Linked DNA regions of Homo sapiens. The protein of the gene in region 1 purifies or fractionates together with the protein of each later gene. This does not show direct contact. Each region holds a gene or a part of one and is shown in the gene's direction. Other genes may lie near its edges. The genes, in order: NEIL1, DDX55, TRUB2, GZF1, YBX3, KRR1 and CHD1L.

The links.
Region 2: the proteins of NEIL1 (region 1) and DDX55 purify together in Homo sapiens (affinity purification with mass spectrometry; one large-scale study listed by BioGRID and IntAct). This does not show direct contact.
Region 3: the proteins of NEIL1 (region 1) and TRUB2 purify together in Homo sapiens (affinity purification with mass spectrometry; one large-scale study listed by BioGRID and IntAct). This does not show direct contact.
Region 4: the proteins of NEIL1 (region 1) and GZF1 purify together in Homo sapiens (affinity purification with mass spectrometry; one large-scale study listed by BioGRID and IntAct). This does not show direct contact.
Region 5: the proteins of NEIL1 (region 1) and YBX3 purify together in Homo sapiens (affinity purification with mass spectrometry; one large-scale study listed by BioGRID and IntAct). This does not show direct contact.
Region 6: the proteins of NEIL1 (region 1) and KRR1 purify together in Homo sapiens (affinity purification with mass spectrometry; one large-scale study listed by BioGRID and IntAct). This does not show direct contact.
Region 7: the proteins of NEIL1 (region 1) and CHD1L purify together in Homo sapiens (affinity purification with mass spectrometry; one large-scale study listed by BioGRID and IntAct). This does not show direct contact.

What each region holds. Positions count from the first base shown.
Region 1 is NC_000015.10:75,349,697-75,353,787, forward strand, and holds part of NEIL1 (endonuclease 8-like 1), read left to right. Parts: intron 1-1,604; coding exon of another isoform or gene 1,605-1,680; intron 1,681-2,335; coding exon of another isoform or gene 2,336-2,414; coding exon 2,415-2,534; intron 2,535-2,627; coding exon 2,628-2,691; intron 2,692-2,905; coding exon 2,906-3,005; coding exon of another isoform or gene 3,006-3,046; exon of another isoform or gene 3,047-3,286; intron 3,287-3,914; exon of another isoform or gene 3,915-3,989; intron 3,990-4,042; coding exon 4,043-4,091. UniProt on the Homo sapiens protein: Involved in base excision repair of DNA damaged by oxidation or by mutagenic agents. Acts as a DNA glycosylase that recognizes and removes damaged bases.
Region 2 is NC_000012.12:123,600,535-123,605,130, forward strand, and holds the start of DDX55 (ATP-dependent RNA helicase DDX55), read left to right. Parts: upstream 1-1,564; 5' UTR 1,565-1,614; coding exon 1,615-1,722; intron 1,723-3,313; exon of another isoform or gene 3,314-4,596. UniProt on the Homo sapiens protein: Probable ATP-binding RNA helicase. Has ATPase activity and is involved in the maturation of precursor large subunit rRNAs.
Region 3 is NC_000009.12:128,312,323-128,316,413, reverse strand, and holds part of TRUB2 (pseudouridylate synthase TRUB2, mitochondrial), read left to right. Parts: exon of another isoform or gene 1-588; coding exon of another isoform or gene 589-592; exon of another isoform or gene 593-785; coding exon 786-847; exon of another isoform or gene 848-990; intron 991-2,166; exon of another isoform or gene 2,167-2,316; intron 2,317-2,508; exon of another isoform or gene 2,509-2,524; coding exon 2,525-2,606; exon of another isoform or gene 2,607-2,863; intron 2,864-4,091. UniProt on the Homo sapiens protein: Minor enzyme contributing to the isomerization of uridine to pseudouridine (pseudouridylation) of specific mitochondrial mRNAs (mt-mRNAs) such as COXI and COXIII mt-mRNAs.
Region 4 is NC_000020.11:23,368,492-23,372,582, forward strand, and holds part of GZF1 (GDNF-inducible zinc finger protein 1), read left to right. Parts: intron 1-270; coding exon 271-438; intron 439-1,092; coding exon 1,093-1,250; intron 1,251-1,599; coding exon 1,600-1,950; 3' UTR 1,951-4,091. UniProt on the Homo sapiens protein: Transcriptional repressor that binds the GZF1 responsive element (GRE) (consensus: 5'-TGCGCN[TG][CA]TATA-3'). May be regulating VSX2/HOX10 expression.
Region 5 is NC_000012.12:10,698,829-10,702,919, reverse strand, and holds the end of YBX3 (Y-box-binding protein 3), read left to right. Parts: intron 1-785; coding exon 786-960; intron 961-1,566; coding exon 1,567-1,632; 3' UTR 1,633-1,666; exon of another isoform or gene 1,667-1,668; intron 1,669-3,265; 3' UTR 3,266-3,831; downstream 3,832-4,091. UniProt on the Homo sapiens protein: Binds to the GM-CSF promoter. Seems to act as a repressor. Also binds to full-length mRNA and to short RNA sequences containing the consensus site 5'-UCCAUCA-3'. May have a role in translation repression.
Region 6 is NC_000012.12:75,501,486-75,505,576, reverse strand, and holds part of KRR1 (KRR1 small subunit processome component homolog), read left to right. Parts: intron 1-322; coding exon 323-379; intron 380-1,502; coding exon 1,503-1,673; intron 1,674-1,713; exon of another isoform or gene 1,714-3,576; coding exon 3,577-3,654; exon of another isoform or gene 3,655-3,760; coding exon 3,761-3,854; exon of another isoform or gene 3,855-4,091. UniProt on the Homo sapiens protein: Part of the small subunit (SSU) processome, first precursor of the small eukaryotic ribosomal subunit.
Region 7 is NC_000001.11:147,291,008-147,295,098, forward strand, and holds part of CHD1L (chromodomain-helicase-DNA-binding protein 1-like), read left to right. Parts: intron 1-474; coding exon 475-545; intron 546-2,600; coding exon 2,601-2,715; intron 2,716-3,401; coding exon 3,402-3,510; intron 3,511-4,091. UniProt on the Homo sapiens protein: ATP-dependent chromatin remodeler that mediates chromatin-remodeling following DNA damage.

The sequences.
Region 1 (4,091 bases):
CCAGCTACTTGGGAGGCTGAGGCAGGAAAAGCGCTTGAGCCGGTGAGGCCGGGGTTGCAGTGAGCTGAGACAGCACCATTCCACTCCAGTCTGGGCAACAGAGCACGACTCTGTCTCAAAAAATAATGATAATAATAACTGATGGGGGAGGAGAGAGGAGAGCCAAGAGGAGGATGGGTAGGTACTGCCCTGAGGACATGTGGCCAGTTAGTGTCAGAGAAGCTGGGGCTCCCACCCACAATCCCACACCACCTCTCAGGGCTCCCAGGAGGCTAAGAAGGTGGAGGGGCTTTAATATGGTAAGTGAGGCTGAGCGGAATTGTTTCAAGGGGATGGGGAGGGGACTATCTCATGACATGGCTTCCGCCTTGGGCTTTGTGGTCTCCCACATCCGGCCTGCCCAGTATTCTGTGTCCTGTGGTCTCCTCTGCGCCACTTCCCTGCCTGCAGTAGGGTGTAACAGCCCCACCTGGGATGTGATGCAGGTCACCTCACATGGCACAGTGTTGGCCACTTCCTTTCCTCTGAAGAGGAAACGTGTATGAGTCTCTGCTTCATGCCAGGCCTTGTTCTAGGGGCTCGGGGTACAGCAGTGAACAAGATGAATGTGGTCCCTGCTCCCACAGAACTGATGTTCACATAGGATAGGGGAATGAGAAATGGACCCATGCCTTAGGAAAACCCAACAGGTGAAGGAGGTAGAGGATGACTTGGCCGAGGGTGGGGGTACATTAGCAATGGCCACTCTAGGGAGGTTTGAGCTGAGGCCTGACTGATGAGAAGGAGCCAGCCAGAGGAAGGCATTGGAACTGGCAAGAGTCACAAATGCAGAGGCCTGGAGTAGGGTTGGCAAGTTCTCCCTTTCTGGGGGATGCTGTGCGTCCGTTGACCCTTAGGAGACTTGGATACCTGTGGGATGGGTTGGAGATGTCTCTGGTGCCTTAGAAGAAAGTTGACTCCTGGCCTTCCCCTGTGTGAACTCCAAGCACATCCCCAGGGAAACATCTGTCTTTGGTCCTGGATTCCTCCCACCTCAGCCTTCCTGGGGAGTCACGCCACAAGTTAACTCTGCCAGCTGGCTCTGAAGTTTCTCTCAAACCACGAGCATTTGGGCTGTTTTCTTAGTCCCCCAGCTGGGGCGTGTGGCAATTGGCTTACCTCAGGGATCAGGGCACCTCCCAGGCTACCCTTGTACCTTCACCCCAGAACTCTGTCTTCTGACCCACTCATCACACCCATTAGTCAGTCTTGCCATGACCCTTTTCCGCAAAGAAACAAGATGCACATCCTCTTCACGGTGAGGAGGGGAGACCCATGACCCTTGGAGGTGGGGTGGGGGCTGCTAGGGCCCTCACTGGTACTCCACATATCTCCTGCACAGAGCCAGACAATGTCCAGGATCTTGAGAAGAATGGACCCTACCAATGGCAAACCCACATATGGTCTCTAACCCACCACAAATGCTATACAGGGAGCTCCAGACTGCAAACACACTTGAGGTCCTGTGGCCACACTGTTCTCATGTCCTGAGGAGTCTGAGGTGATAAACACACAACCTCATATACAACCTCATGTTGCTTTTTTTTTTTTTTTTTTTGAGACAGGGTCTCGCTCTGTTGCCTAGGCTAGAGTACAGTGGCGCCATCACAGCTCATTGCAGCCTTAACCTCCAGGGCTCAGGTGATTCTCTCACCTCAACCTCCTGATTAACTGGAACCACAGGAGTGCATCACTAAGCCCCTGGCTACTTCTTAAATTTTTGGTAGAGATGGGGTCTTCCTTGTTGCCCAGGCTGGTCTCCTGGGCTGAAGTGATCCTCCTGCTTCAGCTTCCCAGAATGCTGGGATTACAGGTGTGAGCCACCACACCAGCCTCAAGTTACTTTAGATCAGTATTTTTCACCTTTCACAATGAATTTATTTTTAATTTTGTTTTTATTTTTTGAGATGGAGTCTCGCTCTGTGGCCCAGGCTGGAGTGCAATGCTGCGATCTCAGCTCACTGCAACCTCCACCTCCCAGGTTCCAGAGATTCTGCTGCTTCAGGCCTCCCAAGTAGCTGGGATTACAGGCACCCACCATCATGCCTGGCTAATTTTGAATTTTTAGTAGAGACAGGGTTTCACCATGTTGGCCAGGCTGGTCTCGACCTCCTGACCTCAAGTGATCTGCCCGCCTCGGCCTCCCAAAGTGCTGAGATTACAGGCATGAGCCACTGCACCTGGCCGTCCTTTCACAATGAATTTAAATCCCTTGATGTTCCCATTTAACAGATAGGAAAACGGGGGCAGGGAGAAGAGGAACTGTAACTCCCAGTTTCCTTCCCCTTGCACCCAGAAACAGGTTCTCTGAGCCCCTCTCCCCATCCCATGGAGGGTGGGGATGGGTCTTACGCACCCAGACCGTGTTCCTCCAGGGAGAATGTGCTACGAAACCTAGCGGATAAGGCCTTTGACCGGCCCATCTGCGAGGCCCTCCTGGACCAGAGGTTCTTCAATGGCATTGGCAACTATCTGCGGGCAGAGATCCTGTACCGGTCAGCAAGCAGGCATGGGCATGGGGACTGCGGTGGGCCAGGTGTGCCCACATTCCCCACTGCCTAGCATGGCTTGCCTTGCCCCCACTACAGGCTGAAGATCCCCCCCTTTGAGAAGGCCCGCTCGGTCCTGGAGGCCCTGCAGCAGCACAGGCCGGTAAGCCCAGAGAGGGATGGAGCACACGTGCTGGCACACTGGTGTCCACATGGGCCGGCAAGGAGATGGGTGGGGTCAGGTGTCCCCAGCTTAGCTCAACAACAGGGGTGGGGAGGGGATGAACTGCCCAAAGTCTGACCAAGCTCAGAGAGAAGGTCAGCTGCCTTTACATGGCCCTGCTGACAGACAGGTCCTGCCCCTGCCCCTTCCTCAGAGCCCGGAGCTGACCCTGAGCCAGAAGATAAGGACCAAGCTGCAGAATCCAGACCTGCTGGAGCTATGTCACTCAGTGCCCAAGGAAGTGGTCCAGTTGGGTGAGGCCAAAGATGGCAGCAACCTCTGCTTCAGCAAATGATTGTGTAACCCTGGGGCACTTGTCCCTCTCTGGACCTGATTCACCGATTTGGAAGTTTGTAGCCCTAGCTGATACTCAATGGACTAGGCCTCCTCACTTGTCAATAGTGTTTCCAGGCTGGGCGCAGTGGCTCATGCCTGTAATCCCAGCACTTCGGGAGGCCGAGTGGGGTGGCTCACCTGAGGTCAGGAGTTCGAGACCATCCTGGCCAACATGGTGAAACCCCATCTCTACTAAAAATGCAAAAAATTAGCCAGGTGTGGTGGTGGGCACCTGTAATCTCAGCTACTCGGGAGGATGAGGCAGGAAAATCGCTTAAACCCAGGAGGTGGAGGTTGCAGTTGAGCTGAGATCGTGCCATTGCACTCCAGCCTGGGCAACAAGAGCAAAACTCCATCTCAAAAAAAAAAAAAACAAAAAAACAGTGTTTCCTCCAAGCTGCCCATGAGACAGGCAGGACAAGGATTCTTTTATATATTTATACACACACACACACACACACACACACGCACGTTTATATATATTTTTGGTAGAGATAGGATCTTGCCATGTTGCCTGGACTAGCCTCAAACTGGGCTCAAGTGATCCTCCCACATCTGCCTCTAAGTAGCTAGGACTACAGGCTCACACCACCACACCGGGCTAATTGTTAAAAATTTTTTTTGTAGAGACAGGGTCTCCCTATGTTGCCCAGGCTGGTATTGAACTCCTGGCCCCTAGGGATTCTCCCATCTAAGCTTCCCAAAGTGTCGGGATTACAGGTGTGGCCACTGCACAGGGCCAGGACAAGGATTCTTAATCCCACTCCAGGATGGGAAACCCATGGCCGAGTGGGAAGAAACCAGCTGAGGTCACATCACCAGAGGAGGGAGAGTGTGGCCCCTGACTCAGTCCATCAGCTTGTGTAGCTGAGGTCTGGGCCAGGTCTAACCAGGCTCCCCACTCCTCCCAACCTGAGCCTGCCCTCTGATCTCTGCCTGTTCCTCTGTCCCACAGGGGGCAAAGGCTACGGGTCAGAGAGCGGGGAGGAGGACTTTGCTGCCTT
Region 2 (4,596 bases), on another chromosome or scaffold:
CCTTAGGTGATCCGCCTGCCTCAGCCTCCCAAAGTGCTGGGATTACAGGCATGAGCCACCGCACCTAGCCCAGATAATTTCTTTTTCTTTTTTTTTTTGAGACTGAGTCTCGCTTTGTCACCCACGCTGGAGTGCAGTGGCGCAACCTCCACCTCCCTGGTTCAAGCGATTCTTCTGCCTCAGGCTCCTGAGTAGCTGGGACTACAGGCATGCGCCACCACGCCTGGCTAATTTCTGTATTTTTAGTAGAGACGGGGTTTCACCATATTGGCCAGGCTGGTCTCGAACTCCTGACCTTGAGATCTGCCCGCTTTGGCCTCCCAAAGTGGTGAGATTACAGGCGTGAGCCACCGTGCCAGGCCAATAATTTCTTTATGGCCAGTTTTTTCACAGAAAGGTGGAGAGAGAGTAATATTTTTAGGTTTTATGGCTGACTGTGGAGAAAAGGGATTCCTGTTTCTATGCTCCGTCATGGGCAAGAGGGATTCTTGAGTTTCTATGGCTAGCCTCAGAGAATCAGAGATCAGAGAGGGAGCAGAAGGTCAGAGAGAAACTTGCTTCTGAGGCTGCCTCTGGGGCCTTCATTTTGGGGTTTCGTTTTCAGAGCCTCAACAGGAGCAAGCCATGCACATAGGTGGAGGAGATAGGCCCTCATAGAGGGCACATAATGAGTGGTCAATAAAAGTTTGCTGAGTGAAGGCCGGGCGCGGTGGCTCACGCCTGTAATCCCAGCACTTTGGGAGGCCGAGGCGGGCGGATCACGAGGTCAGGAAATCGAGACCATCCTGGCTAACACGGTGAAACCCCGTCTCTACTAAAAATACAAAAAATTAGCCGGGCGTGGTGGAGGGCGCCTGCAGTCCCAGGTACTCGGGAGGCTGAGGCAGGAGAAGGGCGTGAACCCGGGAGGCGGAGCTTGCAGTGAACCGTTATAGCGCCCAGCCTCCAGCCTGGGCAACAGAGCGAGACTCCGTCTCAAACAACAACAACAACAACAACAACAACAAAAACAGCTTTCTGAGTGAAGTTGTATGTGGACATGAATGGCCCAGGCAAACAGTGAACAGAGGAATGGGACAGTGTTCTTAGTTAGGACTCTGACCCTAACTTCCGGGAAAGTAAACCAACATTCAGGACGTACCGGCCATCGGACCGCAACATTCAGGACGTACCGGCCATCAGCGGGTGCCTGTTTTGCAGGGCTGCTAACCCGGGTCCCCGACACGTTTCTCTGCCCACGGTAGCCAGCCCCGCTGTCCTTCGGCCTGGACGCGGTCCTGTGCTGCCACCTGCCTCCGAGGGGCAGAGAAAGTGGGAGGGCCGGGCCAGAATCCCTCCCGCCAAAACTCCTGCCCGGTGCGGAGAGGCGCCCGGAGCCCAGGGCGCTGTGCGGAGCGGGTGTAACTCCCCAGGCCTGCCCCGCCGCCTGCCTCCACCGTCCCGCGGACGCCTTTCCTCCCTCCCGCGGCGTGGGAGCCTTCGCCGCGCTCCGGAACTCTGCTGCTCCAGCGAAGTTCCCGGCCGGCCGCTGGAGCTGCGGGAAGCGGAAGTGCTCGTTGGGGGTGCACAAGGCGCGTTCGAGCAGCGGCGACCGACGCGGCGAAGGAGCGCGCCATGGAGCATGTGACAGAGGGCTCCTGGGAGTCGCTGCCTGTGCCGCTGCACCCGCAGGTGCTGGGCGCGCTGCGGGAGCTGGGCTTCCCGTACATGACGCCGGTGCAGGTATCGGTTCCCTGGCGTGGGGGAGTGAGGCTGGGAGAGGGGCAGGCACCCGCTGCATCGGACCCACAGGAGGTGATCGGACAGATCTGAGCCCTGGGGCGCTCATCCCTCCAGCTGGGGCTCTTGCCTTGTCTCCAGCTGCCCAGACTGGCGGAATGCGGAGCTGCCCGGCCAGCGAGCCGGCAGAGGGGCCGCGACCCACCCCGCCCTCGGGTGCTGTGGTCTCAAGCCTGGTTCTCATCCTGGCCCTGCTCGCTGTAGCTGTGAGACCTCGGGCAAATGGCTTAACCTCTCCGTGCTTCATTTTCCTTCTCTGTGAAATGACGAAAAAATAACACCCTCCTTATGGGGTTGCTGTGGGGACTAAATAAACCAGTCGGCACACTATGGGAGCTCAGTAAGGGTTACCGTTGTTATGCATCTCTTCAAGAATATTTCTTGAGGACCTGCTATGTGTCAGGAACTCTTCTAGGCTCTGGGGAGTTTGCAGTATTGGCATCTGCTCATAGCCTTACTTTCTAGTGCAAGAGCTAGAGAAAGGATAATTTCAGCTGCTGGTAAGTGTTATGAAAGAACTAAGACGGTTGTGATAGTGTCGCGCGAGGACTGCAGAGGAGGTGAGATAGGGTGTTAAGGAAGGCCTCTCTGAGGAGGTGCATTGAGCTGAGACCTCAGTGATTGAGAAGGAGCTGGCTCTGAGGTGACTAGGGGGAGATTATTCCACTGGAGAGAAATACCAGTGCACATAAATGCCCTGCGGCAGGCTGCAAATAGTTTGAGCAGCAGAAAGGAGGCCTTTGTGGCTGAACATCAAGAGTAGTGTAAGAGATGGATTGTGCAGGGTCTTGTAGGCGCTTGGATTTCATTCTAAATGTAGTGGGAAGCCATCTTATCTGGGAGGATGTTTAGGAAGGGAAGGGCTGTGATTTCTCTGTAGAGAGTGGCCTTTCCAGGCATAAGAGATGAAGCAGGCAGGTCGCTTAGGAGGCCATTGTCAGGTAAGAGATGATGGTGACTTGGAGTAGGGTGGAACCAGTGGATACTGAGAAGTCACATTTGGGATAGCTTTAAGGTTGCTAAGGGACTGGAAGTGGAGGTTAGGAAAGAAAAGACTACAGGACCTGAGGTTTTTATTCTTTTTTTTTTTTTTTTTGAGATGGAGTCTCGCTCTGTTGCCCAGGCTGGAGTGCAGTGGCGCGATCTCGGCTCACTGCAACCTCCGCCTCCTGGGTTCAAGCAATTCTCTGCCTGAACCTCCCAAGTAGCTGAGATCACAGGTGCCTGCCACCATGCCCGGCTAATTTTTTGTATTTTTAGTAGATACGGGGTTTCACCATCTCGGCCAGGTTGGTCTTGAACTCCTGACCTCCTGATCCACCCGCCTTGGCCTCCCAAAGTGCTGGGATTACAGGCTGAGCTACCGCACCCGGCTGATTTTTATTAGTAGCTGAGTGAATGGTGTTACCATTTCCCAAGAATGACTGGCGTGCGTATCAGGTTTCAGAGGGAAAGTCAAGAGTTCTTTTTTTTGTTTTTTGTTTGTTTGTTTGTTTTTAACTTTTTTGAGACGGAATCTTTCTCTGTTGCCCAGGTTGGAGTGCAATGACACGATCTCGGCTCACTGCAACTTCTGCCTCCCGGGTTCAAGCTATTCTCCCATCTCAGCCTTCCAAGTAGCTGGGGTTACAGGCATACACCACCACGCCTGGCTAATTTTTGTGTTTTTAGTAGAGACGGGATTTCGCCATGTTGGCCAGACTGGTCTTGAACTCCTGACCTCAGGTACGCCCGCCTTGGCCTCCCAAAGTGCTGGGATTACAGGAGTGAGCCACTGCGCCTGACCACAAGAGTCCTGTTTTTAAACACTGAGCTGGGTACAGTGGCACCCGCCTGTAGTACCATTTGTTTGGAAGGCTGAGGTGGGAGGATCCCTTGAGCCCAGGAGTTCAAGACCAGCCTGAGCAACATAGTGAGACCCGCATCTTCGAAATTAAAATAAATAATGGCCGGGCACGGTGGCTCACGCCTGTAATCCTAGCACTTTTGGAGACCAAGGTGGGAGGATCACTTGAGATCAGGAGTTCAAGACCAGCCTGGGCAACATAGGGAGGCCCTGTCATCACAAAAATTTTTTTTAAATAAATGAAGTCTTGAGTTTGAGATGCCCATAAGATTCCCGGGAATGTGGAGAATGTATTTCCAGCAGGCAGGGCTGGAGATGAAAACTGGGAGTGCTATGTGCCCTGCCTAGGGAATGTAGTGCGAGCAAGACCCAATCTCTGGCCTCAGAGCTCATTGTCTAGACCTGTCATCCACTACACAGTCATCAGACATGGCTATCAAGTGCTTGAAATACACTTTGTCCAAATCAAAGTGTACTCTGAGTATCAAATAACACACTAGATTTTGAAGACCTAGTATGAAAAAAGAATGGAAAATGCTGATTTTTAAATATTGACTAAATGTGAAGGGACAATATTTTTGATATATTGGGTTAAATAAAATATTAAAATTTATTTCACCCATTTCTTTTTACTTTTCTTACTATGGCTATTAGAAAATTTAAAATTGTTTATGTGGTTCACATTTTATTTCTATTGGACAGCAATGGCCTGAAGCAGGGTCCTCACTGTTGGCACTATTGACATTTTGTGCTGGAAAATTTTTTGTTATGGGGCTGTCCTGGGCATTGTAGGATGTTTAACAACATCACTGGAATCTGTCCATCAGAGGACATCACCTCCCAACCCTGGTTGTATTTTATTTATTTATTTATTTATTGAGGCAGGGTTTTGCTCTGTTACCCGGGCTGGAGTGCAGTGGCACAGTCACAGCTCACAGTAGCCTCGACCTCCCTGGGCCTAGGTGATCCTC
Region 3 (4,091 bases), on another chromosome or scaffold:
TCAGTATTTTTTTTTTTTCCTGAGACAGAGTCTTGCTCTGTCTCCCAGGCTGGAGTGCAATGGCATGATCTCGGCTCACTGGAACCTCCGCCTCCTGGGTTCAAGCAATTCTCCCTGCCTTAGCCTCCCGAGTAGGTGGGATTACAGGTGCCCGCCACCACGCCTGGCTAATTTTTTTTTTTTTTTTTTGTGAGACGGAGTCTCACTCTTGTTGCCCAAGCTGGAGTGTAGTGTAGCACCACACCTGGTTAATTTTGTATTTTTTGGTAGAGATGGGGTTTCACCATGTTGGCCAAGCTGGTCTCAAACTCCTGACCTCAGGTGATCCACCTGCCTCGGCCTCCCAAAGTTCTGGGATTACAGGCATGAGCCACTGCGCCTGGCCTTCAGACAGTATTTTTACCCCCATTTTACTGATGGGGAACTTGACGCTCAAAGAGGCTAAAGATTATACTCAGAGCTGTCCCTGATTTGAGTGCAGGTTTGTGTGACTAGGCCAGGGATCTCTTCCTCTCAGGTGTCAGAATCCTGTGGAGAGCTTGGCAGGGATCCTAGGCCCCCTCCAACCATGAGTCAGATTCAGTGCATATGGGTAAGGCCCAGCAATCTGCATGTGATATATACCCAGAGGGGTGCACCTGCCCCCTGTAGAAGATCTTTTTGCCTTCTTGTTGCCTTTGGCAGCATCAGAAAAGGGAGTATTCTGATGGTGGGGGTAGGGGTGGGGATACTTAGGGGAATGGGAAGGGGGTCCCAGGTGTGAGATGACGCTGGCTGCTTTTCAGTGCTCGGCGTGGGACATGGATGCAGGCTCCTCACCGATATGTACAATGCTCATCTTACCAAGGTACGAGGGTCTGGGGACAGCCTGCTTCTCCCTTGGTCCTTTCCTGGGGGTCACCAGCAGGATTCTGAAGCTTAGAGGATTCCGTGGGGGAACACCCAAGCCATAAGCAAGCATTTTTTTGATGATCGTGTGCTGTGCAGGGGCTGTAATAATAATAACAATAATAACTACCAGTGTTAGTGTATGCCGACTACTCTGTGCTGAGCACTGTACGTGGATTCCTTTAGGGAAGCCTCACAGCCTCCCTGTAAAGTGGAATCTGTTGTTAGCCACATTTCACAGATGAGAGAACTGAGGCTCAGAGAGGAGATGTTACTTACCTAGGTCATGTAGTTGTTAGGGCTTTAAGAGCTGGGATTTGAACCTAGGTCTCTCCAACACCAGAGCTTGATCATGATGCCATTCCCTATTCTGTCCCAAGACTGAGAGGTAGATGTCAGCATCCTACCCACAGGGAGCTTACCATCCAGAGGTGGGGTCGGGGCTATGGAGTCTGATACCACAAAGTATGTACGCAGGTGCCACGTTATGGGGCCCATGTTTTTAGTGGTTAAGGGCACAAATTCTGGAGCCAAATGGCTTCAGTTTGAACCCCAGCTTCTACCACTCTGACAGCTGTGTGTCCTTGGGTAGATTACCTAATTAATATCTGTGTGCCTCAGTTTCCTCATCTGTAAAATGGGAATGAGGGCCAGGTGTGGTGACTCATACCTGTAATCCCAGTACTTTGGGAGGCTGAGGCAGGAGGATTGCTTGAGCCCAGGAATTTGAGACCAGTCTGGGCAACATAGCAAGACTCCATCTCTATTTACAAAATTTTTTTAAATTATAAAAATTTTAAAAATTGTGGCCGGGCTCAGTGGCTCCTGCCACTTTGGGAGGCTGAGGTGGGTGGGTCACTTGAGGCCAGGAGTTCAAGACCAGCCTGGACAACATGGTGAAAACCTGTCTCTACTAAAAATACAAAAAAATTAGCCAGGCTGGTGGCGCATGCCTGTCCTCCCAGCTACTCGACGATCCACCCGCCTCTGTCTCCCAAAGTGCTGGGATTATACGTGTGAGTCACTGTATCCAGCCAATCATTACTTATCTGTGGCAGATGGGGTTAGCTGCACAGATTCAGAGGAGGGGGAGTTTTTACAAGCAGGGATGAGCAAGGGCCTGATCTGGGCCATGGAATCTCATTCTATTTAGAGGCGTGGAGAGAAGCCTACAGGGCATGCTAGAAGGGGCTCGGGGTGATAAATTGCCGAGTTAGGTTGGAGAGGAGAAACATGGAGGCCTGGGGTGGCCACAGGGTGGCTGTCAGCGGTCAGTACCTTTGGAGGCTGCCAGTGCTGGTTGTCATGGAAACCAGCCAGCAGTCTTGTAGGAAGCCTGCTGACTGGGAGCCAGGTACCATGTCCTGCTGAATCCAGGCAGCAGTACTGTGAGACTGGCCCTGTTACTGTCCCCAGGTGACAGGAGAGCTTGAATACAAAGAGAGCAAGAGCTGCTGAAGGCCACATGACAGAGCTGGTGCCCTTCCTCCTGGGGCTGTGGAGCAGCTGGGCAGGGGCTGGGCACATGAGCTTCCTGAGGGAGACCTGAGGACCCCCCACCCCCAGCTTCTGGGGCAGGGGCTACTAGGGCTTAGAATGGGGTCACTGACGGATCTTTACCTCCCTGTCCTTGAAGGATTACACAGTGCGTGGCCTCCTGGGCAAAGCTACAGATGACTTCCGTGAGGACGGGAGGCTGGTAGAGAAGACAACCTATGGTGAGAACCGGAAGTGGCTGCCGCTGCCTCCCTCCGCATTTGCTTTCCCTGAGTCCTCTCCCCGCCCTAGGCCACGCTGGCCCCTTCTCAGTTCCACTGCACACACTAGGCTTGGGCTGAGGCTTTGGCCACGGGATCTGTGCTCCAGGAGCATCCTCTACTCCCCTGCTTGCCTAGCTCAAATGTAACGTCACTTCCAAAGACTCTAGTTTCTCTCCATCTCGTCAGTCTTTGACCTTTTCCTTTTCTTTTCTTTTTTTTTTTTTTTTTTTGAGACGGAGTCTCGCTCTGTCGCCCAGGCTGGAGTGCAGTGGCACGATCTCAGCTCGCTGCAAGCACCACCTCCCGGGTTCACGCCATTCTCCTGCCTCAGCCTCCCTAGTAGCTGGGACTACAGGCGCCCGCCACCACGCCCGGCTTTTTTTTTTTTGTATTTTTAGTAGAGATGGGAGACGGGGTTTCACCATGTTAGCCAAGATGGTCTGGATCTCCTGACCTCATGATCCGCCCTCCTTGGCCTCCCAAAGTGCTGGGATTACAGGCATGAGCCACCGCGCCCAGCCTTTCCTTTTCTTTTCTTTTTTTTTTTTTGAAACGATGTCTCGCTCTGTCGCCCAGGCTGGAGTGCAGTGGCGCGATCTTGGCTTACTGCAACCTCCACCTCCCAGGTTCAAGCAATTCTCCTGCCTCAGCCTTCGGAGTAGCTGAGATTACAGGTGCACACCACCACACCCAGCTAATGTTTTGTATTTTTAGTAGAAATTGGGTTTCACCCTGTTGGCCAGTCTGGTCTGGAACTCCTGACCTCAGGTATTCTGCCCACCTCGGCCTCCCAAAGTGCTGGGATTACAGGTGTGAGTCACCACGCCTGGCTACTGTTCTAAATTTTAAAAAGAGGCCGGGCGCAGTGGCTCACGCCTGTAATCCCAGCACTTTGGGAGGTCGAGATGGGTGGATCACAAGGTCAGGAGTTTGAGACCAGCCTGGCTGATATGGTAAAACCCGTCTCTAGTAAAAATACAAAAATTAGCCGGGCGTGGTGGCAGGCACCTGTAGTCCCAGCTACTCAGGAGGCTGAGGCAGGAGAATCGCTTGAACCTGGGAGGCGGAGGTTGCAGTGAGCTGAGATTGCACCACTGCACTCCAGCCTGGCAACAAAGCGAGACTCCGTCTCAAAAAAAAAAAAAAAAAATAATAATAATACAAAAAATTAGCCGGGCATGGTAGTGCACGCCTATAATCCCAGGTACTCGGGAGGCTGAGGCAGGAGAATCGTTTGAACCTAGGAGGTGAAGTTTGCAGTTTGCTGAGATCTCACCACTGCACTCCAGCCTGGGCAACAGAGCGAGATTCCATCTCAAAAAAAAAAAGGCCAGGTTCGGTGGCTCACGCCTGTAATCCCAGCACTTTGGGAGGCCAAGGCAGGTGGATTGCCTGATGTCAGGAGTTCGAGACCAGCCTGGCCAACATGGTGAAACCCCGTCT
Region 4 (4,091 bases), on another chromosome or scaffold:
AAATGTGAGCCAGCTGAACAAACAATACCTCTTTGATTCTAGTCAAATGGAATTTTTCTTGCAATTTCCAAGGATATTTTACACCAACTTTCAGTAAGTAGCAAGCATCTTACATGAATATATATTTTATGATAGTTTTTACTGGAAAATGTAACATGCTGCCTACCAAGGCACTTTTGAGTTCACGTGGGTTTTAACAGTGGAGACCTACTGTTCCATGTGTTTTTAATGCCTGTATTGTTTATGACTTTATTTCATTTTCTCATGTAGGTGAAAGACCTTTTATGTGTGAAACATGTGGCAAGAGTTTTGCTTCTAAGGAGTACTTAAAACACCACAATAGAATCCATACTGGATCCAAACCCTTTAAATGTGAAGTATGTTTCAGGACTTTTGCCCAGCGGAATTCACTGTACCAGCATATTAAAGTCCACACAGGTATGGTTGGAATGTCCCAGGGAAGGGAGTTTAGTTTGGCCAAAAAAAAAATTCTAAAGCTTGTAGATTTACCAGTAAATTACTTGGAACTAAGCTTTTGAAGAAAACTGGCCAAACTTTGTATGTCATAATAGCATTTCTTTAGAGATTGTTTCTAACTCTGAGAAACTGAAAAGTGGGAGCACTTATGTGTGTAAACGGGAGAAGACTAAGTCCCTTTGCTACATGGAGTTTTTACTGAAAAGGACAGACAGCTTAGTCATGGTGTGAATGTAGGAAGTGGATGTGGATGTGTGGACATAGGGATAATGATCTGTACATGTTAGTAAATGCACATGCACACATGCATATTCAGTTGTTAGGGGTCTTGTAATTTTATACTCCATTACCATGGAAAACAGGTGTCATTCCTATAGTTATAATACCTGCTGCAGGCACATGTCCTGGCCCCTTTTTGGTGTAGGCCATAAATTCTTGGTATTATAGAGATAGTGGATTTGTAGCCCTTAAGTTGTTCCCAACATAACCTTCCTTATGTTGGATGCTGAGGCTTCCCAGTGGTTTGCAACAGCATCATTCACTCAAGTGTGTATTCAGAATTAAGCACAGTAGGCCAAAGGGACCCACCAGCAGTCTCCTCTCTCCCTGCCTCAGGGGAGCGTCCCTACTGCTGTGACCAGTGCGGCAAGCAGTTCACCCAGCTCAACGCCCTCCAGCGCCACCGCCGCATCCACACAGGGGAGAGGCCATTCATGTGCAATGCGTGCGGACGGACATTCACCGACAAGTCCACTCTTCGGCGGCACACCTCAGTAAGCAGTGGGTTGGCTTATTTGAGAAACAAGCTGCTGCCCTTAGATGCACGGAAAGAGAAATACCTACCACCATTCTCCAAGGTGGTTAGAGGTCGAGACAACAGGTACTTTCTCCTTGGGTTGTCTCTGCAGTGGAACGCTCACGGAATGAATGAAGTGGAACACCAAGCCCCAAGGCCCAGGGAAAGCACCATCCACGATGACTACTCTGTAACAGTGAGGGTGGTGGCAGGCGGGTACTTATTAGTGAAAGTTGAAAATTGAAGTTGTAGAGGGACTATTGTTTTAAAAGATGCACTTGTCCAGAGACACATTCAGTGACCTTTGTTTTGTGTTTAACTTATAGATACACGATAAGAATACTCCATGGAAGTCTTTCCTTGTCATTGTAGATGGCTCGCCCAAGAACGATGACGGACACAAGACTGAACAGCCTGACGAAGAGTATGTGTCATCCAAGCTTTCGGATAAATTGCTGTCTTTTGCAGAAAATGGCCATTTCCACAACCTGGCTGCAGTCCAAGACACTGTACCTACCATGCAGGAGAACAGTTCTGCTGACACAGCCTGCAAGGCAGATGACTCCGTGGTGTCCCAGGACACCCTCCTGGCCACCACCATCAGTGAGCTTAGCGAGCTGACCCCACAGACAGACTCGATGCCCACACAGCTTCACTCTTTGAGCAACATGGAATAAGAGCTTCAAGCAGTTCCCATCCTGTTAGTCTGCGTGTGTGGTAGCTGAACTCAAGATGATGTGGGGCTAAGAAAAATAATTGTCCATGTGCAAAGATGTGGGCAAGAATGGCCTCTGCAGATTTTCCTGAACTTCTGCTAACTTGCACGGCTTTATCACAGCATTTTTAAAGCTTTCCCTCAAAAATCCTGATCTGCATGATCTCAGCTACTTTATTGACAAAAAGGCAGTGAACATAACCTCACTTAATTCTGGTGTAGGGTGTATGTGCTAATCGTTCTAATTCTTGATTACCTAGTTTATAGATAACTGCTGGTCTTAATTGCAGAGTACAGAGAACTGAACCAGCTCCTGATATTGTAGTTAGCAGTCTTCCTGGCTTCTCACTCTGCCTTATATTTCCATGTGGGTTTACTTCTCTCATAACTACTTTCAAGGTATTTTTCTTCCAAGCTGAAATAAAACTGGGGCCACATATTTTCAGTCATTTCTTCCCTGTTGAATTGAAGCAAATCAGATTTTCTGTGGGGACCCTCAAATGCAACTGAAGAAATAGATTGTTGCATTCATTCCTCCCCACCCCCCATTTGTAGGCAGTAAACAAAGTATGACTGACAGATTGAACACCTGCAAAACTGCTAGCGTAATCTCAGCACATACGCAGCTAGGAAGTTTGTCATAAAATCAACTTAGAAATGAGATGAGGCTGTTCAGTTTGTCTTAAAAAAATCAGATTAGGTAAAAGCTGTCCTACCAAAGAGTCTAGCAAAACAATATAGTATTTTTTTGCAGAGGCATGAAAAATTAAGACGCTTTAGAGTACTTGAAAGTTGTGTAGTCATTTTATTTGCAAAATGAGGTGACTGTGGCAAATTATAGAACACAGAGTATTATTACTTTTGCCAGGTTTTTCTGACTTGATTTCTGTAATTTCCAGAAACCCAGACTTCTCATTTCCACACCTAGAGATGGAAACAGGCAAGTAACTGACATGTCTATTTCCTTGGGAGCATGTGAGAACATAGCAGTAGGGACCAAAAGTCTCAGCACACTTACCTCCGATTATGCCTTAAAGAGTTGATTGTGAAGAACCAGTAACTTTGTCCCAAATGCTTCTTTGGCTGTTTCATGCAGGACTTAATTATTGCTTTTAAAAATTCACAATGAAAAGACGATTCTGCTGTATTTGTTAAACGTTGACATTTGGTTCTAGGGCCTTGAGTATGTGCCACGTGCTTGTGAAATGCTATGATTCACATGTAACATTTAAACATTAATTTAAAAAGGGAACCTTGGAGAATTCTTTTGTTCACTAGTTCCTTTTTTCTCTACATTTTTAATTTATTAAACTTGCTGTGAAAACACTTTGATTTTCTAAGAGGAAGGTACTTTAAGTTCCAGAATGAACATGTAGCTGCACTATGCCAGAAATTAATGAGGGAAGACTTTCTTCCTAAGTGCTTATGTTTTAACTTATGTTAGTGAAACCACTACAAGGTGTTTCAGGCGCTGATAACATGCTTCACACCTGCCCTTGGAGGTCACAGTACTAATTTACTTCAAATTTAGTTATGACAGTGTCACTGTATCCTAGTTATGTTTACAGCACAAATAAATAATGACTGTCATACATCCAGAGGAGACCGAACCTGCCCAGCTGATGTACTGTTTTATGGAATAAAGTCACTTGATCAGAAGGAATTGAAACAATAGATCATTTTGTTACCTACTGGAGGGATTTTTGTCTTGAATTTGTTTCCTTAGAAATTCTACAAAAAAATGTTGTTAATAAATGTCTGCTTTGTAAAAGCAGTTTTGCAATTTTTTAAAGATCTATTTCTGTTATAATTTAGGTTCTGCAGAAATATGATTCTTAATTGAAACATATAATTTGCTTAATTACGTGAATAATGAAATGTAAAATCCGGGTCCATAAGCCTTTATTTCATACAGTCCTAGGATTAAGCTGTTTAACTGCTTGGATCCCAGTTGGTCTCTGGCAGTGGGATCCTGGAGAGGAGAAATCCTGGCCTCTGCTCATGCGCAGGCCACAACCGGGCTGGAAGTGCGGTTGAGCTCTCTGCCACTTTCTTCAATGTAAAAAGTAGGCATCAAAGATACGACTTCTACTATATACATTT
Region 5 (4,091 bases), on another chromosome or scaffold:
CCTCTTGGTTTTCTTGTTATAAATCTCATCCACAGAATTACCATTCAAATTAAATATTTAATTTTAAAACCGACTAGCACAGGCTCTGGCACATAATAATGTTTCTTCTCATGTTTAATTCCCTTAGTCTCTGCTAAATTCTGTTCATGGAAGGCAGATACCAGACTACTCTTCTTTTCTTTTTTAATTTTCCTATTCTTAGTGCTTATCAAAGGGCCTGATAGGAACAGAGTATGTGTTCAGTATATGTATGTTCCTTACAAATATGTATTCAAATGAAAGGGGAAAATGATGGAAAATTAAGATTTTTTTTTCGTGAAACCTCTATTCCATTTGTTGCATTGACCTGCGAATAATTCTAGCAATAAGTACTCATCACTTGACTTTTTTTTTTTTTTAATTTTGAGATGGAGTCTCCCTCTGTCACCCAGGCTGGAGTGTGCCAATCTCGGGTTGCTGCAACCTCTGCCTCATGGATTCAAGCAATTCTTATGCCTCAGCCTCCCAGGTAGCTGGGATTACAGGCATGTGCCACCACGCCCGGCTAATTTTTGTATTTTTAGTAGAGATGGAGTTTCACCATGTTGGCCAGGCTGGTCTCAAACTCCTGACCTCAAGTGATCCGCCTGCCTCAGCCTCCTGAAGTGCTGGGATTACAGGGGTGAGCCATCATGCCTGGCCCTGATCACTTGACTTTTTAATTTTTAAAAATAAATAAAACCTTATTTTCTGGAGAAGCCCTGTCCTGTTGGCACCTGTTCTATTTTCTTCTGTGTTCCCTACAGCAGGGGACCTCCTCGCCCACGACCTGCCCCAGCAGTTGGAGAGGCTGAAGATAAAGAAAATCAGCAAGCCACCAGTGGTCCAAACCAGCCGTCTGTTCGCCGTGGATACCGGCGTCCCTACAATTACCGGCGTCGCCCGCGTCCTCCTAACGCTCCTTCACAAGATGGCAAAGAGGTAAATCCAACCAGTCAGGGCGGATGTTGCCAGATAGTCTTTAATCATGTCAGACTTTAGCATTCTAAAAGTGGTTTTATCACATGAAACCTGACACTTAACAAATATAAAAACATTTTGCTCAAGATCCATATATATAGGGTATGCCTTGTACATAACACAGACCACATATTTGAATCCAGTTAACATTCTCTGAAAGAATGACCCATATTAATGGGGATTCAGAGCTAAAACATTTGGGGTTCTTCAAAGAAGAGAGGCATTTATCAAGAGGAAGCTGCCTCTAAGCATGAGTTGAAAGCAGTTGTATATCAGACTTTATGGAGAGTAGTGGTATTTAGTTGCCGTTTTGTAAGCTGTTCTTATATGGTACTAATTTTGTTTTGTTTTGTTTTTTGTTTTTGTGAGGTTTTGGTTTCGTTTTGTTTTGGTAGAGATGCCAGGGACTGAATATGGTACTAATTTGTGACTCATACTTAAGAGTAGTTAAATTTTTGCATGCTAATTTTCCTTCACAGGAAAATTCAAACTTTTAAGAACTTTCAGTCTTGAACTTTCCACTGTCATCTGACTTTATCTGATTTATGGCTTTGTTTTGCATTTTAGGCCAAGGCAGGTGAAGCACCAACTGAGAACCCTGCTCCACCCACCCAGCAGAGCAGTGCTGAGTAACACCAGGCTCCTCAGGCACCTTCACCATCGGCAGGTAAGAGCTGGGGCAGCCCAGTCTTGAGTTGGTATTTTCTTTTTAGTATCACTGGTTTCTCAACAAGAGTACAAATTAGTCTAAACTAGTTCTGCAGTTCATCTGTGCCAACCCCTTGTCTCTATTGGGACTCTGTGGAAAAAGTGATTTGGTGGTTAAATATTTCTGGGATTGACCTCATTTTGATAAGCTTTGGTGAGGGTATAAGCATTCAGACAGAGTTGATGATACTCAACTTCTTTTTTCTAGACAGGCAGTTTTTTAACTACTAGTACCACTTAGGAAAACTGATGCTAAAAGTCCCTAACAAAGGCCTGGTTTTAGTAATCAGAAACAGTTTCAGAACCTGTTTAGTAATCAGAAACAGTAGAATAAACTAAAGGATTTTTTTTCCTTCCCTTTTTCTTTGATAATCAACTTTATTTATTTTGAGGCGGTGCAGCATAGTGTATAAGAGCCAAGGTTTATCTACCCATTGCAGGCTCTACTGTACCTCTCATTTGCTGGGTGATCTTGAGCAGTTTATCCTCTGTCTCAGTACTATCTGCTACTGGTAAAAATTAGGATACTAATTATATTTACTAGGGTCGTTGCAAGGATTATTAAGTGAAATAACAGGGAGTGTTTACAATAGGGTATGGTAAAGAATAACCTCTCGTAAAAGGATAGCTTGTTATTTTCTTGTCATTTTCTACTTTTTTCTGTCTTTTAAAGGTCTTGGACATTTTATTTACATAGAATTATAGCCAGAAAGATCAACTCAATTATAAATTCTGGGTTTGTTTTTTTTTAACCTATAACCCTTTTAACTGAGACTTTAGTTCTTATACTTCTTGGTTATCACCCTTTCCATTAGCTTTTAGTTAAGAGAGAGGTTGTAAACTCAGTGTCAATGCTATTTTTCAAAAATTGTTAAAATTTCATCAATGAAGTTTTGGGATTATTATAAGTTCTTGTGTCTTAAGGCCATCTGCTTTTATATCCAGTGATGTGGGATTTTAATCAGCCATTAATTAGGTAAGCATTCACTTTGAGGACAATATTCTGTTTTATCTTGGGTAGCATGGACAGTTTGTCACAGAAATAAGTTCCCTATTCAAACTTGGAATTAGCTGATTCAGAGTAACATATTAATAATATAAAAATGGCCATACCCTTTTATGGCGTAACATTATTTCTAGGTATTGTTTCTAAGGAAATAATTTTAAATATTGGGAAAAAATATTTTTACAATTTACAGTCTGTCTGACATTTGGTAAATAGCTAATTGTGATATATTCATATTAGGAGATAGGGTGCAGCCACTAAAATGATTTTGAGTATTGTTCATTAGTAATGGTAATTTTCTTTTATACAATTTTATAAAATTTTTGCTCTTATGTACTGACTTTTCTGGTTTATAAAAATACTTTATTAAAAAGTGAGAGTTTCCATTTAATTAACATATAGCTTACAGATCTATACAAGATGTGATTGTATTTAGAGCATTTGAAGTACTCTTTTTCTAATTATATGAAAAGCATATAATTTCTGCCTTTTTATTCTTTAACTCATGGTTACTTTGTCACTCTTTATAAGTTTGATTTTAATTTTTCCCAGGTGACCTAAAGAATTAATGACCATTCAGAAATAAAGCAAAAAGCAGGCCACAACCTTAACCAACACCAAAGAAACATCCAAGCAATAAAGTGGAAGACTAACCAAGATTTGGACATTGGAATGTTTACTGTTATTCTTTAAGAAACAACTACAAAAAGAAAATGTCAACAAATTTTTCCAGCAAGCTGAGAACCTGGGAATTCCTGCACGGAAGACAAGAGAGTAGCCTCTCCAGTTTCAGCAACCGCTAGGTTTCTATTTTTTTTCCTGGTTTTTACTGTTTTGGTAATATATATATTGAAACAAGAAATATTAATACCACATGGGGAGAACCCCAACCAAAGAAATCTGAAATATATAGTAAATGCTTTTTTTTCCGTTTTTGTTCATTTTGGATGCTGGTGCTAAACCTCCAAGTGTCATGATTTAAAAAAAAAAAAAATTTATGTCCTTCTTATTTATTTCTAGGATGAGGGGAGGATAACATTTTTGCTTTCTTATGTGACTCTCTTTGAAAATGTGCAGTAAGAAATTCCTCAAAAATAAAATTTTTACCCTTCAGAGGACAGAATGTTTAATGGGAGTGTATTTTTGCCGACCTTAGCGTGTGTTTGTCTTCTCCACCACTTGATTTACTTGACTTGATTAATAGTAAATTCAAAGCCAAATGTAAAGTTAAGTTAATGCTGTTTCACAAATTTAGGCATATAAGCTTGAGATGATAAAAAATTGGATTCCTGTTGAAATGTACAGCTGGAAATTGACAAGTTCATGTCTGAGTTCAGTAGTAGGCATGAATTATTTGGTACTGTCTCTTTTTGAGTAA
Region 6 (4,091 bases), on another chromosome or scaffold:
GAACAGGAAAGTGATTTTCCTGTATGCAGTGGCAGTCCTTGTATTCCAGCCCTCTTCCTCCTAAATCACATTGCTTTAGAGTGTTGTATTAGTTCTCTGTGCTACATTTTAGCAGTAATTGAGAAACTGTATTGTATTCAAGGGAGATTGACTGCCTTTATGAAAGATGGAGAAGCCACTCAGAGCAGTTGAAGGAACTACTTAATTATTTAATTACATTATTTAATTTGGTACCCATTACCTGATTTTTGCAGTATTAATCCTCTTCTCCATAGCTCATTAAAATCCTTGTGACTAATTCATTTTTCTTTGCAAATTTCAGGTTAGAAAAGTAGTCCTTGATACTATGAAGAATATTCATCCAATTTATAACATTAAAGTGAGTGGTAATTATATATAACTGTACCAGTGATTATCATACTTCTTTTAGCTACAGAAACCTTTCTTGAAATTAAATGTTTTATGAAATTCTAATGCACAAACAGATAAAGCAGAGCTATTTTGGGTAAATTAGGGGTAGACTTCAGCCTACTTAATTCTACCCCAGTTTTGTAGGTACTTCTTAGAAGCTCTCTGTGGAGCACAGTGTGAAAACTACTGAAGGGGATACTGTAATATGTTATATAGTTGTAATCAATGAAAGTAAGCTTCACAGAATCTGTTGTAGATCATATCAATCCAGTTTTCTTAGATTATGAACCCATGTATTTAAGGATATGATCTTTCGGAAATCTGCCTTTTTCTATTAAAATCTGGAACATCTCATGTTGCGTTAAAACCTTTTTATGAATTTAACACTCAAATTGTAGCTCCTTTGAGAGAGAACTGTTATATCCCTGTGTGCACAAAGTTTGATTATTCTTGGAAATGTAACCATGGTATATAGAACTATTTTATGATGGGTTTGTTGAGCAATCCACTTAAATTTGATGAACTTAAGTTATAAAGTCACTGTTAGATTGGGGGAAAGTGATTTTGAGTTACATTGGGATATTGGGATATTGCAGACAAAAACAAAACTATGTGTCTGATCCCTGGTTTGCATCCTCTGATGTTCCATGGTCTGAAATTTAAATGGAATAGGGAAATGTGAAAATACTGGTTTTCTGTAATCGTGAGAAAGTTTACTTTTGTCTTTTTCTGTGATATTTCAGTTGCTACTGAAAACTTCCTGCTTGCAGGGAACATCAGCTAATTAAGAGCCCTCCCTGCTTTTATAAGTGGCATTTTAAATGTTTTAATGAAATAATGGTTGAAAATTCAGTTTTATTTTTGTCTCATTTTAACAATTCTGCATTTTGTAATTAAATTTCTAATGGTTTTCTAATAATTATACATGTTTGTGATAACCTACCTTTTTGCTTATGTAATTGGTTTAATTTCACCAAAGAAACTAGGAACTGTTTCTTTTATTATTTATAGAAGCAATATTTATAATGTCTGAGTCTGACAAATGTGTGACTTTGGAAAGTAAAAATTTTTACTTTGTTGCATGACTAAAGAGCTTAATGATTAAGAGAGAGTTGGCAAAAGATTCTGAATTACGATCACAAAGTTGGGAGAGATTTTTGCCACAGTTCAAACACAAAAATGTGAATAAACGCAAGGAACCAAAGAAAAAAACTGTTAAGAAAGAATATACGCCATTCCCACCACCACAACCAGAAAGTCAGGTTAGTACTAAATGTAGAACTTCATATGAAGGAGAATCTATTTTAATGTATTTGGTCAGAAACTTTATTGAAAGTATTTCAGGTGGGATATGTGTATATATATATATTGTGTGTGTGTGTGCAGAGCTATAAGAAACTGAGGGTAAATATAAATAGGCATATTTTGAGCTGAGTGCATGGGGGTGTGCAGTGGGGCGTTCACATTGATTATAAACTGCATCCAGGAGGTTTGTGACCCTGTAGCCACTGTAAATGTTCCATGGATAAAAGTTCGTTTAGTCTGCAATACTCTTTTCTCTGATTTGGCAACATTATTGTGACTGTGTGCTCTATGGTTGTTCTTGTTCTGAAATCTTAAATTGTAAATTGTAACACCCACCGTTTTTCTAAGTTATGATTCCTTTTGTCAGGTGTCTTCTGCTTCATTTCCTTTCCCACCATGACCAGTTTCCATTTTGTTCTTGCACATCATTGTTTTGATTCATGCCCCTTTTTACTTCTGTCCCACCTTCTCAGCAAAGCTCTAAAACTTGGATCAGTCTAAAAACTTGACTTCTTCCTTGCAACGTGGCTACCAAATTAAGTTAGAGAAAGTTTTATCTTTGGATTAATTTCATTCAAAATTCATGTTTCCTCTTAATTCTCTCAGTGCCCTCCCATGTTTAGCATATGACATTGCATTTTATTGAAATATTTGAGACCACCAGATAAGAACCCCTTTCTGTTTCCTCTTCTCTCACGTATGGGTTTTCTTCCACCTGCATCAGCCTCTTCTATGTGTTCTTTGAATTCCATCTTCACCTGTCTCCTGGGGGTTCTTGCTTCATTATTCCCTTCCTTGGCTATATCCTAAAGCCTTCCCTTTCTACTTCTGCTCAGCATGTGAACTCATTGCTTTCTACATCTCTTTTTTCCACAACCATGGTTGGAGTCTTTCAGGGAAGATTTGTGATTGACGGGGAAAATGATGATCATAGTGAAAAAACAATGGAAGTTTTGGATCATGGAGGAAATTGATAGTAGTTAGGGGGAAAGTGGAGTGATGCAGTCATTAAACCATGCTTCCATAACACCTGCCTTATTTCTTATGGCCCTTTCTTGTAGTAATTGACTTATCTTTCTTCTGTAGCTGTGTAAGCTTCTTGAAACAGTGATGTCTCGATTGACTTGTTCTTAACACTTAATTCATTATGTGACTGGGCGAGTTATTTATCCCATCCATACTTAAGTTTCCCCATACCTAAAGTGGGAGTAATGGTAATACCTATCTTAAAGAATTGTTAGTGAGGATTAAATGAGTAATTATAAAGAGCTTAGAACAGTGCCTTAGATATAATAATGCTATGTAAGTGGGAGACAGGTCAGTTATACACATTTTACATGTTGGCTGTATATTGAATGAACAAGCTGTTGCTTTTGCTAATTAGTCACCAATTCCTGATAGTTCTGGCTTTTATTCTGCATGCCACTACCTTTATTCCAGGCTCTCATCTATTCTTCATTCCTCTCCATTAAAATTATTCTTTGGTCTTTACAGTCTTCTCAGAAACCTACAGTCATTTCTAAATCTTATCCCTCCTACTTTGTCTGCCATTGAAGCTTCTTCAAATTTTCCCCAAAACTCTCTCTCCAGTTTCTTCTCACACTTTTCTGAATCAGTGACCTTCCATGCCATATCCCTGAACTACTCTGGGTTGTATTCCATGGAGGTGCTTTCCTACCTCCACACTTTTGTGTATGTATTCCCCTCAGCTTAGACTCTGTTTCCTTTATGTCACTACCATTTTTATTAATAAATCAGTTTGACCCCATTGTTTTTACCCTAAGGATATTGTGACTTGCTTAGGACATGACTTCTCCTCTACATTATTTCTGATGTAATTGTAAATACCGTTTTCAACAGATCGATAAAGAATTGGCTAGTGGTGAATACTTTTTGAAGGCAAATCAGAAGAAGCGGCAGAAAATGGAAGCAATAAAGGTACGGCACTTTATGTCTGGCTCACATGAATAGCAAAGTTCATAGATACTTGAATTATTTAACTATAAATACATTTAACTGATATATTTTTTATTTATTAATGTAGGCTAAACAAGCAGAAGCCATCAGTAAGAGACAAGAGGAAAGAAACAAAGCATTTATTCCACCTAAGGAAAAACCAATTGTGAAACCTAAGGAAGGTAATGCTTTCTATGATGTAAAAGTCTTTATTAATTAGGAAAAGTAAACCCATAATAAATTTGTCTGAATCTTTTTAAGAAACAGTTGTATCTTTTCATCAGTTCTCTTAGCATTTCATTAATTACTAATCCTAAGGACAAGGGATGGCTGAGATAATTTATAATTTAGAGGCAGCTAATGCCTATTTCAGTGCAAACTGGATTGACAGTCCTCTCCTGACCTCTGGTCTGTGCTTG
Region 7 (4,091 bases), on another chromosome or scaffold:
TCAGCTTATGTAAAGCCATAGAATTAAATTAGCACATTTTTCTTCACTATCAGTTTTACTTGATTTGGATGGGGTAGGAAAATATATTATACAAACAGGTAGAGATAAAGTAGAATGTAATAATTTGAATGATTTAGGACAAGCACAAAACTACCAAAGGAATTTCAAGCTCATAGTGCTCCCTCCCCAAAGCCCCCCAGCTACCTCTGGGTTTTGTATTCACTTTCTGATGTCTACAGGGGTACTTTGTTGTTAATGTTTGAGGAGCATTAAATTAGGAGATCATAAAAATTCAGGAGTGAAGCAGGTGAGTACCCAGCTAAGAGGTTGACTGAGGCCAGGAAAGTGAGAAAGGGCTGTGTAGGAAGGTGGGTCCTGAAACCCAACTGAATTTGAAGAAGGCGAGATACGAGGAGGATTCATTCATTAGTGAACTTGGTGTTCTTTATGTTGCTCCTTTCTGTTTTACCTCAGACCTGAGTTTGGGAGGTGTCCTTTTATTTCCTGTTGATGATAAAGAATCAAGAAACAAAGGGCAAGATTTGGTAAGTAAAACCCATCTCTTCTCAGAACTACAAGTGGACTCACATCAACTTCTCTTGAAGTGTCCCCTGCCCCAATTGGCCTCTCTGCTAGTGTATTAGTTTGTTAGGGCTGCCATAACAAAAAGACACAGACTAGGTAGCTTAAACAACAGAAATGTATTTCCTTATAGTTCTGGAGGCCGAAAGTCCAAGATCAAGGTATCGGCAGGTTTGGTTTCTCCCGAGGATTCTCTCCTTGGCTTGCAGATGGCGGTCATCTTGCTGTGCATGCACAACCCTGGTGTCTGTGTGTCCAGATTTCCTTTCTTATAAGGATAGCACTCAGAATGGATCAGGCCCCACCCTAAACCCTTGTTTTAACTTCATTGCCCCTTTAAAGACTCTGTCTCTAAATACAGTAAACATGAGGTACGGGGGGTTGGGGCTTCAATATATGAATTTGGGGGGACACAGTTCAGCCTATAACAAGCAGATTGGGCCATAGTCTCCACTGTACTTCCCCTGTCCCCAGGCTTCCATCCATCTGTCCCCGGAGCACCGTCCAGATAGCAGATCCCATCTTAAGTACGAGGATTTCTATTTGTCTTTTTATCCTCAGTACCCTACATAGTACTAGCTCATAAGAAATGCTCCATAAACATTTACTGCATGAGTAAGAAGGCATGACTCAGAACTCTGACGGTTTCATTTCTTACTATGTGAAAATTTCTATGAAAGATTGTGTTTTCTAGTCAGCCATAATAAAGCAGGAGAGAGGAACTAACACATATGTCCTCTGCCCACATCAGAATCCTTTTGCATCTTAGGCATCTTGGGATGCCTGTAGTGAGTTTGATTTACCCCACCTACCTGGCTTTCTCCAAGGCCTGGGTTCATGTTCAGATTTTAAGCCAGAATTAAGAAATTTCAAAATCAGGCCAAAAGAGAGGCTCATCCTTTTGAGGTTGCTGTCTATGTGACTGTGTTAGGCTGTTTTTGCACTGTGATAAAAGAATTCCCTGAGACTGGGTAATTTACAAAGAAAAGAGATTTATTTGCTCATGCTTCTGCATGCTGTACAGGAAGCCTGATACTGACATCTGCTCCTGCTGGGGGCTTCAGGAAGCTCACAGTCATGGTGGAAGGCAAAGGGGAAGCTAGTGTATCACACATGGCAAGAGCAGGAACAAGAGAGAGTGGGGGAAGGTGCCACACTGCTTTAAATAACTAGATGTCATGTGAACTACCAGAGCAAGAACTCATCACCAAGGGTATGGCATTAAGCCATCCATGAGGGATCCACCCCATGATCCAATACCTCCCACTAGGCCCCACCTCCAACACTGGGGATTACATCCTAACATGAGATTTGGAGGGGGACACACATCCAAACTACACAGTGACTAACAGCAAAGTGGTTTCTGTTGAGTCATTCCTTCAGTAATTTCTAAAATGCTAAAAAAGGAGAAAAGTAAAGTGTCTGTGCATGAGAAACTCAGAATCCAGTGATTCAGGAAAACTGTTTACAGGGAGTAGAGCACCATGTCTATGATATGACTGTGGTGATGTCATCCCGGAAGCTCCCTTGACACTCTCCAGCTCGCCCACTTAGGTTAGGATGGTTGAGAGATACTTGGCATTTTGTCCTCATGGGAATTGTTCGAACAGAGATGGAATGACTGCTTGTCCTGGGGGTTGTGGAGCTGACTCAGGCATCAAAGGGCTGGGATACAGGAGCCTCTAAGATCTTTTCCATGCCTACAATTCAGAAAAATTCTCTTTTTTTTTTTAACCCTTGAGAGCTTTTGGAAAGTATATGTTTTGGACTCATTCTCTGGTTTTAAAGTATTTTAAAAAGAAGAAGAAAACCCTGTATAAAGTGACCACAAAGTAAGAATTATGACGGGATATGAAGTCATACATATAGTAGGACATTGCTGTTCAGGCATAGCATCCGAAAGAGACAGAGCCAAGCCCAAGTGACCCATCAAGGGCTGTGCCGCCTCCATGGGCGGTCACTTGGTTGAGTGTGGCTGTTTCATGTTGGGTTGGTCATCTAATGGTGGTTCTTTCCAGTTGGCCTTGATTGTGGCTCAGCATCGTGATCGTTCCAATGTCCTGTCTGGCATTAAGATGGCAGCCCTAGAAGAGGGCCTGAAGAAGATATTTTTAGCAGCAAAAAAGAAGAAAGGTAAGCTCTTCCACCTGTGCTCAAGAGTAGATGAATTTGTTTCTAGGCATGTGATACGACTTTTGAAGGGAGGTAAGAAATGTCAAGATCCCACTTAATATGCACGGTAAAGGCAAACCACAGAAGTGATCACCCCACCGTCTTGTAGTCATATAGCCCCTTGTCCTTTCCAAAACACTTTTAATACCGGTTATCTCTGTAGGCCGTCTCCATCCCCCGGGTATTTTTATCGTGATTTTACAGATGAGGTGGCAGAGGACTAGACATGAAGCAACTTGGTCATATGTAGTTGGTAAATGCTGTTTATTTAATCTCCTCTTGGAGAGTCACAGTTCCCAATAACAGACAGTTCTTCGACAAAAATTGAGTTTAGTTTTGTTTCGAAACCTAGTGTGTCTCAGAGCTTATTGAATTGATTGGCTTGTTAGAGAATCTTTGCTTATTTTAATTTTGCCTCCACCAATCATAATCTATTTCCAATTGTATGTATTTCCAGAACTTGTAGGTCCTTGTGTTCAACAGAATAATTTAATTTTTCTTACTACAATTCTTCCCCCGGAATATTTTTGACATTATAATTATGGGCTTTGAGGGAGATAGTCAATAATAATTTTCTCCCATGTGTATTTTATACCCATCAATCAATTTTTGATGAGTGAAGACATGTGTTCTTCTCTTCATAATAGCAAGTGTTCATCTTCCACGTATTGGACATGCCACGAAAGGTTTTAACTGGTATGGTACTGAGCGACTTATTCGGAAACATCTGGCTGCAAGAGGCATCCCAACTTACATGTATCCTTTTGTGATCTTCATTGTGTGTTCTCCCAACCCAAGAGGGAAAATGTGTTCATTTTCTGGTGTCAGTTCTTAATCCAAGACCAAGTTTCTTCCTGCCACAGTCTTTACTTTCCCCCTCTTCAGTGAGACAAAGAAAGAAGCACTTTCTAACTTGTGTGTATCAAATATGTACACCCAACAGGATCAACACATCCAAGCATTTCTGGATGCCAGCAGATAAATTAAAAGATACATGAAGGGGAGAATTAATTGAGCAATTGTTAATTTGGTAACATATTGAGTCTGTCACATCACTTCTCTAGAGATCCTTCAGGTCTGTGGAACAAGGCTTAATTCTAAGAACTTCACACTGTTCATTTTAATGAACAGTTAAGCAAACAAATAAGTGAACTATTTTATTCCTGAACCTTTTTGATGTATTGTTAAAAAGCAGTATGAAATTTATTTTAACCATGAAGTCATGATCTACTTTAGCTAGACTAGCGTTTTCTTCTAATGACCTCCTTGCTCTATAAGTTAGCATATTTTGAACTATTATATTGAGTCCCAAAATTACTAGAGAAAGCAGAATTGAC